2 separate regions of the Homo sapiens genome follow, and region 1 is linked to region 2. Evidence: fine-mapped expression QTL. Tissue or cell type: whole blood. Region 2 holds a variant in brackets; the other region holds the start of a gene. All regions are shown on one strand. Distances are from middle to middle.

Region 1 (4,115 bases), 32 kb after region 2:
AGCTCTACAGTATCCAAAACCCCTCTTTCTCACTTGAGTAAAAACCAGGACCCAAGGACATACAGACCAAAATGCAAAGAAACAGACAGCAAGCTGGGCGCAATGGCTCACGCCTGTAATCCCAGCATTTGGGAGGCCGAGGCAGGAGGATCACTTGAGCCCAGGAGTTTGAGGCCAGCCTGGGCAAGATAGTGAGATCCCGTTTCTACAAAAGGTTAAAAAGTTAGCTGAGTGTTGCAGCATACACCTGTAGTCCCAGCTACTTGGGAGGCTGAGGCAGGAGGATCACTTGAGCCCGGGAGATTGAGACTGCAGTGAGCCAAGGTATCACCACTGCACTCCAGTCTGGGTGACAGAGCAAGACCCTGTCTCAAAAAAAGAAAAGGAAAAAAAAAAAAAGCCTGGGTGCAGTGGCTCACACCTGTAATCCCAGCACTTTGGGAGGTGGGCGGATCACCTGAGGTCAGGAGTTCGTGACCAGCCTGGTCAACATGGTGAAACCCCCTCTCTACTAAAAATACAAAAATTAGCTGGGTGTGGTAGTGGGCGCCTGTAACCCCAGCTACTCAGGAGGCTGAGGCACAAGAATCGCTTGAACCCAGGAGGCGAAGGTTGCAGTGAGCCAAGATTGTGCCATTGCACTCCAGTTTGGGTGACAGAGCGAGACTCTGTCTCAAAAAAAAAAAAAGAAAGAAAGAAAGAAAAGAAAAAGAAAAGGAAAGAAAAAGAAACAGACAGCAATAATGTTTGCAGCCTCAAAGACGCCAAAGGTCTAAGACATTTTGAAAGCCAATTTACAGACAAAGATAATGATAGAACATAAAAATTGCCCAGCCATTACGCCCCAGCCACCAAGTCTCATCCCTCCTCTGCTGAGAACTCCCCATGGCTCCCACCTCACCTGGGGTCCAAAGTCAAAGTCCCTTGCACAGCCCACACGACCCTGTACATTCTACTCTTACTGTCCCCCTCCAGCTCTCTGTTCCTGCCTCAGGGCCTTTGCACAAACCCTTCCCACTCTTTCCCCCCACAAACTGGCCTCGATCGATCCCTCTCTCATCTCCTTGAGGTTTTTGCTCAAAGGCACCTGCTCATCCAGGCCTTCCTGACCCACCTCCCGCATCTCAAGCAGCCCCCACCCTCCCATCCCCCTTCCCTGTCTTCTTGTCCCTACAGCACTTGTCACTGACAGGTAATCTACTCGATCAGGCTTCTGGTCTCTCTCCGCCACTATATCCCAAGAGGGGGATCTTTTGTCTCCATAAGACCAGGGCCCAACCCACAGGGCAGCTCTTTCACCTGGGGGCAGTCAGGACAGGTCCCCCGGGGAGAGGATACCTGAGCTTCTGAACGCACCCTTGTCGCAAAGACCCCCCGCCAACTGGGGGCGAGGCTTTTCAGCCCCAGAGAGTCTGATATACCCCTCCCAGGCTGTGACTCTCACAATCCCCAGTGGCCACGGAAATGGATCCCCCAGCGCCTGGGGCCTGTCCCCTCCCCCGTCTGCCCACCAGCTGGTTCTGTCCCCAGCCCCCACTCCCTCCATTCAATCACCCATCCATCCCCAGCGCGGTCCAGCCCGTGACGGGAGAGCCTGAAGCAGAAGGTGGGGGGGCGTCCACAGCTGTCCCCCTTCCCCCCCCCCGACAGCTGGGCACTGGACCCTGGAGGGGGAAGGGCACGGGAAACTCCTCGAGGGGTTTCAAACGCCACCAAGGAGCCCATCTCTGTCCCCAAATCTCAGAGCCTGGAGCCTCCCTGCCCCAAACCAGGCACTGAGGAAGGAACAGAAAGTCCGGCCCACCCCGATCTCCGAGAGCGCGGGGACAGTGAGGGGCCGAGAGGCGGACGGGGAGCGCAGGGAGTTCAGGGGGCGCCCGTCATCCGCATCCCCACGCCACCTCCTCCGGGAAGCCCTCCGGACACACCCCCGCGCGTCACGGAGGCAGAACGGCAGCCGCCATCGCGCTCCCAGCCCCGACGCGACTCCCATCTGGGACCCCCGCCGGGACCCCCGCGGCCCTCCCCGCCTTCTCCCGCTCCCAGCCCCGGCCGGAGGAAGCTGGCGGGACCCGGGCCGAGGCGGAAAGGGGTTGAATTGGGGGCGCCCGGGCGGGGAGGGTCGCACCGCCCCGGGGCGGAGCCGGGCCACGTGGGGGAGGTGGGAGGGGGCCCCGCGGCCACACTACCTGTTGATCTTGTGCGCGAAGGCGCGGCGCTCGGAGGCAGCCATGGTCCTCGCGTCCCGCCGCCGCCGCCCCGGGCCCCGGCCCCGCCGCCGCCGCCGCCTCCCGGTTCTGGGCAGCCGGGGCGGGGCGGGGCCGGCGCGGGGGCGGGGCCCTTCCGGGTGGCCCGGGCCGCTCCGTGCTGCCCCTGCAGGCCGGAGGGGTCGCCTGGAGTCCTGGGGGCTGGGGAAACTGAGGCTGGGGACGGAGAGGAGGCCCCGGGATCCAGGCTGGGCGGGCCCCAGACTCCCGGGCTGGGGGGACGCTCTTTCTACCCTAGGAGAAGGGCTGGGGAAACTGAGGCTGAGGAGGGAAGTTAGGGAGAGGAGGCGCTGGGACCCAGACTGGGGGTGCCCCAGACTCCCGAGCTGGCGGGGGCGCTCTTTCCACCCTGGGAGCTGGGCTGGAGAAACTGAGCCTGAGGAGGGAGGGAGGGAAGGGAGGCGCTGAGACCCGGGCTAGGTGGACCCCAGGCTCCCGGGGTTTAGTGGGGTGGTCTTACCACCCCAGGAGCAGGGCTGGGGAAACTGAAGCTCAGGAGGGAGGGAGGGAGGGGAGGCGCTGGGACCCAGGCTGGGTAGGCCCCAGATTTCCGGGGTTTGGGGGGCGCTCTTTCTGCCCTCTGACTCCTGGCTGGAAAACAATAACGATGTTCATGTATCTAATAATCATACCTGTAAGTATAATCGTGGCCGTGCATGGTGGCTCATGCCTGTAATCCCAGCACTGTGGGGGGCCAAGGCAGGAGGATTGTTTGAGCCCAGGAGTTGGAGACCAGCCTGGGCAACATAATGAGACCCCGTGTCCACAAAAAATGCAAAAATTAACCAGGCATGGTGGTGTGTGCCTGTAATCTCAGCTACTTGGGAGTCTGAGGGAGGAGGATCGCTTGAGCCTGGGAGGTCAAGGCTGCAGTGAGCTGTGATTGTGCCATTTCAATCCAGCCTGGGTGACAGAGCGAGACCCTGTCTCAAAAAGTCTAATTGCTAAGATGTCATTGAGCCTGGCCCTGCAATTCACACATGCAGAAGAAATTATTGTTTTCCTCCTTTTACAGATGAGTAAACTGAGGCACAGAGGTGTTCGGGTGCTTGCTCAGTGTGACTCACAGGGGTCTCCAGCGCCTGCATTGTCCGTGCTCCCAGTCTACAGCATGGGAGTCAGAGGAGCCTGGCTAGGCACTGGAGTGCTCGGAGATGTGCCCCAGGTCCAGGTGGTGGGACCTGAGTGAGCCAGTTTGGGAGTCTAGACTTTCGGGGCCGCCTCTACCAAGAGGAAGAGGTGGGGATGTCTTGGTTAATCTATGGTCTCAAATCTCTCCCCACTGGCCTCTCTCCCAGCACTGCTGCAGCATTTTTAGAGAATTCTCCAGCCGACACTCCCCTCTGGAGGAGCTCACCCCTTTCTCACCTGCATGCCTCTGCACCGGCAGGTCCTTCCTCCTGGACAGCCCTTCTTTCCCTGGTCAGCAAATGCCCCAGGGAGAATTTGAGGTTGAATCAGACAAGGCCGTGGCTCTGCCTCAGGGCCTTTGCACGTGCTGTTCTCATTCCCATCTATGGGTTGCTGGCATTTTATCCTCTATTATTTATTTATTTATTTATTTATTTATTTATTTATTTATTTATTTATTTTGAGGTGGCATTTCGCTCTTGTTGCCCAGACTGGAGTGCAATGGCACAATCTCGGCTCACCGCAACCTCTGCCTCCCAGGTTCAAGCGATTCTCCTGCCTCAGCCTCCCGAGTAGCTGGGATTACAGGCACCCACCATCACACCTGGCTAATTTTTTGTATTTTTAGTAGAGACGGGGTTTCACCATGTTGGCCAGGCTGGTCTGGAGCTCCTGACCTCAGGTGATCCACCCGCCTCGGCCTCCCAAAGTGCCGGG
Region 2 (4,000 bases):
CTCCCCAGGGCAAGTCAGAGGTGGGACAAAGGGTGGGGCTTGAGGCACTGGATTTGAAGGGAGCTTTATTGGAGGCCCAGAGGGGATGCAGCCAGCAGGCCCTGGGAAGGAGGCTTCAAATAACCTATTGAAGAGTTTTAGGGATGTGTCTTACCTTGATCAGAAAGCTTTCCCTCTTTTTTTTTTTTTTTTTTTGAGATGGAGTCTTGCCGTCACCCAGGCTGGTGTGCAGTGGCATAATCTTGACTCACTGCAACCTCTGCCTACTGGGTTCAAGCGATTCTCCTGCCTCAGTCTCCCATGTAGCTGAGATTACAGGCACGCACTACTACGCCCGGCTAACTTTTGTATTTTTAGTAGAGATGGGGTTTCACCATGTTGGCCAGGCTGGTCTCAAACTCCTGACCTCAAGTGATCCACCCGCCTCGGCCTCCCAAAGTGCTGGGATTACAGGCGTGAGCCACTGTGCCTGACCACAGCTTTCTCTCTCTATCCAGGAATATCTCCTGCAGGATGCAGGTCTCCTGTCTAGGTGAGGGTCTCTTAATGGTTTCTCTCCTTAAAGAGTCTCATGGGGAAGGGTGGCTCTCTCTAAAGGTGGTTTCAGGTACAGTCTCTCCAGGGAGACACCACCTTAAGTGCCTCTCACCTCCCTAGGTTGTGGGGGGGGGTCTCTTGGGGCCATTTCTCAAATATCTCAGGTGCAATTTCAGGGGGCTTCTCTCTTTTTTTTTTTTTTTTTGAGACAGAGTCTCGCTCTGTCGCCCAGGCTGGAGTGCAGTGGCACGATCTCGGCTCACTGCAAGCTCCTCCTCCTGGGTGCACGCCATTCTTCTGCCTCAGCCTCCCGAGTATCTGGGACTACAGGCGCCTGCCACCACTCCTGGCTAATTTTTTTTTGTATTTTTAGTAGAGACGGGGTTTCACCGTGTTAGCCAGGATGGTCTCGATCTCCTGACCTCGTGATCCGCCCGCCTCGGCCTCCCAAAGTGTTGGGATTACAGGTGTGAGCCACTATGCCTGGCCAGGGGGCTTCTCTCTTTAAAAAAGGAAGGGGCTCCACTGGGGGTCTCTTGCCACCAGGCAGGGAGGAGGGGGTCTCACCATGAGCTGGAAGAAGAACCAGGCGTGCTGGAGGATGGCCTCGCGTACGGCACTGCTGCTGACCACCCACTGCAGAGCCAGCTCCTCGTGAAGCAGCTGGGGACAGAGGCAGGGGTCACAGAGTGCGAGGTGCCACCCCTTCCCGTACCCCCTCTGGAGACATGCCAGGGGAAGATGCAGCTGGAGGGCTCGGGGTTAGTGCAGCAGGAGCCAGGCAGGAGGAGGGGGACAAGAGGAGTGGAAGTGCCCTTTCCCTGGGCTCGCCAGACCCCCCTGGACTCTGGATGGGGGAGGAGCACTGGACCCCTTTGCTGGGGACCAGGACAAAAATAGCGTCATCCGCACCTCCCCCCACTACCTTCTGCACAGTGGGTCTCAGCTGGGTGGCTGGTGGGGCCGAGGAGGAACCCTCGAGGTAGGAGGAGGCTCGGCTAGAGTTGCAGTCGATGGCCTATGATGGGATGTGATGGCGAGGAGAAGGTTAGTGTGGATGAGGTGAAGGGGTATGTGGTTGGAGGAAAGACGTGTTCACACAGACAGGGATGGG[G/A]AAAAGAGGTAGGTTAGTGTGAATATAGAGAGAGAAATGCTTCCACATGGATGGACCAGGGCCATGGATGCCAATGGGGACAGGCAAGAAAGAGAGATGGGCCGGCGTGGGTTGGGAGGGGAGGCTGGTTGGAATGGCCAGGGTGCTGTGGGAGTAGACGGGGCAGTGGAGGCAGGGACAAATAAAAGAGTCGCTGGAGAGAGCTGGGTGAGTCAAGATCAAGGTGTGTGGGTATGGGAGAAGAACGTGAGGCTGGGCGGGGTGGCTCAATACCTGTTATCCCAGCACTTTGGGAGGCTGGGGCAGGAAGACTGCTCAAACCCAGGAGTTTAAGATCAGCCTGGGCAACATAGTCAGACATTGACTCTACTAAGACAAAAACAAACAAACAAACAAAAATATATATATATGGCTGGGCCTGGTGGCGTGTGCCTGTAGTCCCAGCTGCTCAGGAGGCCAAAGCAGGAGGATTGCTTGACCCTGGGACTTGGAGGTTGCGGTGAGCTGTGATGGTACCACTGCACTCTAGCTTGGGTGACAGAGCAAGACTCCATCTCAAAAAAAAAAAAAAAAAAAAAAGGAGGATGCTGTAATCCTAGCACTTTGGGAGGCCGAGGCAGGTAGATCACGAGGTCAGGAGATCGAGACCATCCTAGTCAACATGGTGAATGGTGAAACCCCGTCTCTACTAAAAATACAAAAATTAGCTGGGCGTGGTGGCAGGCACCTGTAATTCCAGCTACTTGGGAGGCTGAGGCAGGAGAATCGCTTGAACCTGGGAGGCAGAGCCTGCAGTGAGCCGAGATTGCACCATTGCACTCCAGCCTGAGTGATAAGAGCGAGACTCCGTCTCAAAAAAAAAAGAACGTGATGGAGGAGGTGAGAATAACAATGAAAACACAGTACGCCAGTGACCAGTGACAGCAGTGCAACCACAACAGGCAGGAGGAGTGTGGATGGAGTGGGACCGAGAACACACGAAGGCTGGGAATGGGTACATGGTGTGTGGGGTGAAGGCAGAGGAGATGAAATCAGTGTAGACAGCAAGAATGTGTGTGGCCAGAGAAGGTGAGGGTGAGTGTAGACGAGGTGTAGAGTGTGACCGAGTCAGTGAGTCTAGAGGACAGAGAGGAGGATGCAGAGGTGGAGGAGGGTGAGTGTGGACAGAGGAGGTTAAACACAAGATGGGGAAGGAGGAGAAAGACAAGGCAGGAAGATAAGGACAGAGGAGGTGAGATGTTGGTGAGGTGCCAGGAATAGCAGAGAGAGCCCAAGGTTCCAGGCCTGGCCCTGCCCAAGCCTGGCTTGGGCCTCAGTATCCCCATCTGTGAAATGGGTATAGGCAGAGGAGTTCAAGCTCCACTCTCGCTTCCTCCTTCGCTGGTTAGGGGGTGAGGCTGCTCGCAGGAACAGGAGGTCTGATGACAGAGACGACCCAACCCTGGGACCTACTCTGACACTTGAGGGCTCTCTAGCTACCCCAGTCCCAGCCATACCCTGGCAACTCACTGTGCACCGTGAGGGCCTTCCATTGAAAAGGCCCAGCCTCAGTGTCACCCAGATTTCCAGATTCCCAGCAATCCAAGGAAATGACTGCCCAAAGGCCCCCCCTGCTTGTTCTGCTAGGAGTCCCCTGGGCCTGTCATAGGGTACAGGTTACCTTGGTGATGGGCACAGAGCTGGAATAGGCCCTAGGGCCAAGTGTGTAAGGAAGCAAGCCCTGTGGCCTCCTCTCTGTGCGTACAGTCCTCTGACCTTGGTCCCAATATTTGTACATGCCTTTCCCTCTTCCTGAACACCCACACCCACCCACCCTTCCCTAGCTGACTCTATCTTACCCTTCGGGTCCCAGCAAAAGATGTCACTCCCCTGGAGAAGCCCCCAAGACCACCCAGAGGGAAGCTGGTATTCGGTTGCTACTTGCTTCCTTTCCACGCTGTGTGATCATATACTTATGCATTTGTTTGATCCGTGTCTATTTCCCCAACTAGCTGGAAGCTCAGGGTCAAGGCCAGACCAAGAATCTATCATCCCAACAAAATCCCACTGCAGTGCCCTCAGCCCTAACTCAAGCACAGGCTCAGGACTGCTGGGGGAGCACTATATTTTGAGTCCAAACTGCATCCGAAAATTTGGAGTGTTATCTCCATTTTACAAATGAAGAAACTGAGGCTCAGGAAGATGCATCCAATTGCTCAGAGCATGGGGTGAGCTCATAGCAGAGCTAGGACTTGAACCCAGGTCTGTTTGGAGGCAAAGCGTCCCCCTACACCAGGTACCTGGAAAGAGGCAGGGTAAGGGGAGCTCTTTGTCTAAAATGGGATAGGGGAGCCGAGAGGTTCCATTCCA

The links. PIP is the estimated chance that this variant, and not a neighbour inherited with it, causes the effect.
Region 1: DOCK6 starts here. The variant in region 2 is fine-mapped to the expression of DOCK6 in whole blood (TOPMed, PIP 0.99).

The regions. Positions count from the first base shown.
Region 1 is chr19:11,260,208-11,264,322 of GRCh38, forward strand. DOCK6 (dedicator of cytokinesis 6) reads right to left here and starts at 2,317. Exons shown (of 48, transcript NM_020812.4): 1 at 2,190-2,317. The coding sequence starts at 2,233. RefSeq lists silencers at 1,892-2,031, 2,112-2,171, 2,242-2,401.
Region 2 is chr19:11,227,836-11,231,835 of GRCh38, forward strand. DOCK6 (dedicator of cytokinesis 6) reads right to left here. Exons shown (of 48, transcript NM_020812.4): 23 at 1,105-1,200. Among named protein-coding and RNA genes, the nearest start is that of ANGPTL8, 9.8 kb to the right of the region's middle. The variant G/A (reference allele first, on the strand shown) is at 1,652.